2 separate regions of the Homo sapiens genome follow, and region 2 is linked to region 1. The links come from fine-mapping of genetic effects on gene expression. Tissue or cell type: whole blood. Region 1 holds a variant in brackets; the other region holds the start of a gene. All regions are shown on one strand. Distances are between the middles of the regions.

Evidence for each region. PIP is the estimated chance that this variant, and not a neighbour inherited with it, causes the effect.
Region 2: it holds the start of ZNF584, and the variant in region 1 is fine-mapped to the expression of ZNF584 in whole blood (INTERVAL, PIP above 0.99).

The regions. Positions count from the first base shown.
Region 1 is chr19:58,483,173-58,485,931 of GRCh38, reverse strand. It overlaps LOC112268251 (a long non-coding RNA gene), which reads left to right and starts at 1,708. Exons shown (of 3, transcript XR_007067366.1): 1 at 1,708-2,400. It also overlaps a transcript of ZNF446 not described here and the pseudogene RNU6-1337P. The variant G/TG (reference allele first, on the strand shown) is at 1,467.
Region 2 is chr19:58,407,267-58,409,895 of GRCh38, reverse strand. It overlaps ZNF584 (zinc finger protein 584), which reads right to left and starts at 1,247. Exons shown (of 4, transcript NM_173548.3): 1 at 731-1,247. The coding sequence starts at 748. ZNF584-DT (ZNF584 divergent transcript) reads left to right here and starts at 1,433. Exons shown (of 1, transcript NR_186337.1): 1 at 1,433-2,629. RefSeq lists a silencer at 1,119-1,178 and enhancers at 1,439-1,488, 1,415-2,060, 2,039-2,088.

The DNA.
Region 1 (2,759 bases):
AACAAAAACAAAACAAAGTTTTACATTTTCCTGATATTTAAAAATAAATATCAGGCTGGGTGTGGTGGCTCAGCCTGTAATCCCAGCAATTTGAGAAGTAGAGAAGGGAGGATTGCTTGAGGCTAGGAGTTTGACACTAGGCTGAGCAACATATTGAGACCCTGTCTCTACCAAAAAAAAATTTAATAAATCATTAAAAATATCCTAGTATTTAATCTGGAATTTAATTTTGAGTGTGTGTAAAGTGGAAATCTGTTTTCTTTTGTATGGGGGAGTTCAGTTTTCTCCAATATTCAGTGAACATCCACCCTGTCTTCACTGATTGGTTGAGTCATTTCATGTATATCAAGTTCCAAAAGGTCTGTTCCTAGATTGACCTAGTTGTCCACTCCTGTGCCAATACCACAATATTTTATTTTTTTGAGATGGAGTCTCACTCTGTCACCCAGGCTGGAGTGCAGTGGCATGATCTCAGCTCACTGCAATCTCTGCCTTCTGGGTTCAAGTGATTCTCTTGTCTCAGCCTCCCGAGTAGCTGGGATTACAGGCGTGTGCCACTATACCCGGCTAATTTTTTTTTTTTTTTGTATTTTTAGTAGAGACGGGCTTTCACCATGTTGGCCAGGCTAGTCTTGAACTCCAACCTCAGGTGATCCACCCGCCTCGGCCTCCCAAAGTGCTGGGATTATACACATGAGCCACCGTGCCCAGCCACCACACTATTTTAATATTATATAACTTAACAGTGTTTTTATTTACAATATGACAATTCTTCCCTACTTGTCGTTTTTTCCAAATTGTCTTAGCAATTCTTGGACTTTTCCACATGCATTTTAGAATCTTTTTGTTGGATCATATAAAATGTGCTTCTTTTTATTTTTCTGAGACAGGGTCTCACTCTGTTGCTCCGGCTGGCACGATCATGGCTCACTGCAGCCTCTGCCTCCCAAGGCTCAGGTGATCCTCCTGCCTCAGCCTCCCGAGTAGTTGGGACAACAGGCGTGCACCACCACACCTGGCTAATTTTTGTATTTTTACTAGAGATGGAGTTTCACCATGTTGCCCAAGCTGGTCTTGAATTCCTGGGCTCAAGCAATCTCCCTGCCTTGGCCTCCCAAAGTGCTGGAATTACAGGAGTGAACCACTGCACCCGGCTGAAATGTGGTATATTTTATTTGCATTTCATTTACTTTATAGATTAACTTGGGGAAAATTGGCTGATTGGTTTTTAAAATTTTTTAAAAAAAATTTTATCGAAAAAAAGTAGAGACATGGTCTTGCTATGTTGCCCAGGCTGGTCTTGAACTCTTGGGCTCAAGCAGTCCGCCCGCCTTTGCCTCCCAAAGTGCTGGGCTTACAGGTGTGAGCCACCACATGGGGGAAGGGGCCATGAGCTACAGAACAATTTTCCCCCTAGTGTTTACAGAAGGAATGCAGCCCTGCCAACACTTTTTTTTTTTTTTTTT[G/TG]AGATGGAGTCTCGCCCTGTTGCCCAGGCTGGAGTGCAGTCGTGAGATCTTGGCTCACTGTAGCCTCAACCTCCTGGACTCAAGTGATCCTCCTGCCTCAGCCTTCCAAGTAGCTGGGACTACAGGTGTGCACTACCACACCCAGCTAAAAAAATTTTTTTTAATTGTGTGTTTTTTTTTTTTTTTTTTTTTTTAGAGATGGGGTCTCACTCTGTTGCCCAGGCTGGTCTCAAAGTCTTGGCCTCAAGTGATCCTCCTGCCTCAGCCTCTCAAAGTGCTGGGATTACAGGAGTGAACCACTGTGCCCAGCCATTGCCAACACTCTAGTATTAGCTTGGTGAGATGGTGTCTAACTTCCGGTCTCCAGAATTGTACAATAAGTTTTTGCTGTTTTAAGGCAAAAATAAATCTCATGTTCCCTGTAACTCACCAATCCCATTTTGAGAAATTTATACTACAGAAATAGCCACAGTAGTATCCAAGTGTTTACTCAAGAGAATTAATCATAGCACTGGGTACTGCAGGGTGAGGAGGGAACAAGAAATTCTTTGGTCTTGGTAGAAATGATGGTGCCAGCCAGAAAATAGATTCATCCAGGCATGAAAAGAAAAAAGTTAACTGCTCGCTCACTTCTATAGTACATACACTAAAATTGGAATGATTAGAATGGCCCCTGTGCAAGGGTAAACACAAATTTGTGAAGCATTCCATATGGTGGGGTCATCCCTCTCCTATTGTGAATATTTGCAGTTATTTCATCCATCATCCCTCTCTCTGACCTACCCTTCCGTCTCCCATTTCCGTATTTTTTTTTTCCAGACAGGGTCTCATCCTGTTGCCCAGGCTGGAGTGCAATGGTGTTATCAGAGCTCACTGCAGCCTTAACCTCCTGGGCTCAAGTGATTCTCCCACCTCAGTCTCCCTGGGACTACAGGTATGCGCCACTATGCCTGGCTAATTAGTAGTAGTATTATTTTTGAGACAGGGTCTCGCTTTGTCACCCAGGCTGCAGTGCAGTGGCGCCGTCTTGGCCCACTGCAGCTCTGCCTCCCGGGTTCAAGTGATTCTTATTCCTCAGCCTCCCAAGTAACTGGGACTACAGGTGCATGTCACCATACCTGGCTAATTTTTGTATTTTTTTTAGTACAGTTGAGGTTTCACCATGTTGGCCAGGCTGGTGTCGAACTCCAAGTGGTCCACCTGCCTTGGTCTCCCAAAGTGCTGGGAATATAGGCATGAGCCACCACACCCAGCCTACTATTATTTTTAATTTTTTTTTTTTTTTGGAGACAA
Region 2 (2,629 bases), 76 kb after region 1:
GATGGACACATTCAGGCCCTTGACCTGTATCTCAGGGTCCTATCACATCTCCCCCTGACATTATCTTTCCCTATGAGCTCTAAACTCTTCCCCACCTTACTCCCTACACATACCCTTATACCTTCCTTCTCCTATCCCAGAGGAATATCAGAGCTGCTGGTGTTATTGATGCTTCTGGTGTTACTACTGGAAACTGTGTCCAGCCCAAAGCGACATCAGGTTGGTGACCAGACTGATGCCATCTATGTGCAGGGCCAAGGGCACAGGCTCCACTCTATCTCCTGCCTGCCAATTCCAGTCCCAGAGATCATACCTCTCAGACGCAACCAAACCTATGCTCATCCTTCTCCCTTAGGTCTCAAGTACCTGGTCCCAGGGTCCAGTTTGCCTCCTGCTCAACAGGCACAAAACTGGACAACAGAATGCCTAAAACTGTACACCCCCAGCACAACGTCCCCAGTTTACCCTATAGGCAATTGCCTGGCCTTCCACACGCCGTTCTGCACATGCGTCTCCAGAGGGCCTGGCACAGCAACTACGACCCCATCCTGTCCCAGTCCTGCGGCACATCTCCAATGGCTCCCACTGCCAAGGGCATGCCCCAGCCGTGCATCAAAGACCTCCCCCTGGAATCATACGCAGATCTCCTGCCCTCCTCCAACTCTGCCCTGGCACACGCCGCCCCCCACCTGGTGGGCCCCCTCATTCCTCGGAGGCATCCTCTGCTCACCTCCGCCTCCCCGGCCATTGGACCGTGCGGGCAGAACCCGTGGACTGGACCCACGGCCTCAGCCGAAACGCGTCCCGGGCGCGGAAACCCTCGGCCGCCGTGGAACCTTCCCGGGAAGCTCTCCCCGCGCGGGTGAAATGCGTCCGAAGACAGGGAACCGCTTCCCGGAGCCGCTGGGAAGGAGGACGGTACGGAGGCCCGGGAGACCCACGGCGCCTGTCCGCGAGCGATAAGTCTGAGGAAGATGGAGCCACTCGCCGGTGGGGCACGGCGCGTGGAAGGCGCGGCAAAGGTCCCTGCCCTTCACCTCGCGCAGGGGATCGCGAGGAAGTCACCCCGGCCCACGCAGAGCTGCCTGAGGCGCCGGGACAGCCTTCCCGCCGAGGACTGCGGACTGCCGGGCAACGCCGGAACTCCCGGAACTCCCGTGGCCCGCGCCTCCCCTCGCTCGGCGCCCCTCACGCCACGACCTCCATTCCCGGCTCTCCTCGCGGCGCGGCTGGGTCGTTGCCAAGGCGATAAGGGAGGGCGCCGCTAGCTCCTGAAGCGGGACGTGAACTACATTTCCCATAAGGAGCCTCGACGTGGGGCCGTTCAGACTTGGCCAATGGCGGCCCAGGAACGGGAACGTTCGGGCGGGCCCTGCGTGGGGCGGGGCTTCCGGCGTCGGCTTTCGGCGCTGGCTTTGGGGCGGTTTGCGGCAGTGGGATCATTGGGCGGTGGGCGGTGTGGAGGAGTCTCCGCTGGTCCGCAGAAACGAACGAAGGCGCGAGAATCGGGAAGTTCTGCCTCAGTGACCTGTACGCGTCCTAGCCGCAGTGAATGTTGCTGAACCCCGGTGACCTCACAGTGGAGGGGCGGCCCCATGGGGCCATCGGACCGCGCCGCGCGGGGGCGTTCGCCAGGGCCTCCGCAGAAGCCCGCCTGTGCCCGCAACCGCCCCGAAATTCTCTCCCTGGCACCGTGTCCGCTTTACGGAGCCCGGAGCAAGGCTCAGAAAAATGTCCCAGCCAAAAACATGGTACATGCCTGTCATCAGGCAAGTCTTCAAAGAGCGGCTGGGACCAGGGGCCGAGGGACCTCGTTTAGAGGCGGCTTAGGGGGAAGGTCAGCAGTTGTGTTTCAGTTGTGTTGGGTTTTCGGCGCCCCACAATGCGGGCGACGTATGGGCCACAGGTGTGGATGCCAGGGACAGGTCGCCCTGCACATGGCTGAGGCACGGTAGGCTTGTAGTCTACCCCATATCAGGCCATGGTGATCTCAGGTATGGGGGCCTGGGAGAGGAGAGTGAGTACATGGCTGAGTACGTCAGAGCACGGGGTCAGGGACACATCAGGGGAGGACGCTGGCAGGAGAATAACCGGGCTCCTGGGTGTCCTCCGCTGAATTCAGACGCGTTCATGTTAGAGCAGGTGGGCCTGCGTCCTCCCGGACGAACGGAGTTCTTAGGCAAGGTCCAGAGGAGCTTCTACCTGAAGTGGTGCTGGAGAACTTTGCACTCAGTGCTGGGTGAGACCACTGGCACCATAACTCTCCCCAGCCTCAACTCTGGTTTTTTTCCTCTGTTCTTTCCATGTTCCCCTTGGAAGTCGCTGTTGGTCGTGGCACTGAGGCCCAGATCATGCCACCTCCTCTAACAAGTGGCTGAGTGGACACCCCACACATTCTACCCAAGGGCCGTGAGTGGCCAAGATCGGGGCTCAGAAGTCTCTGAATCTTCACAGCTGGTCACGTTCAGCTCGGTCACTTCCTGTAAGATTCCAGGCACTGCATGCACTGACATGGGTGCGTGTGGGCCCACTGGGTCCTGCCTGGGAGCCTTCCCTGAATGTTCATTTTTTGCAGGTCTGTGTTTGTCTTGGAGTAAGGATTATTCTCGCTTGCTGGGGTCATGGTGTT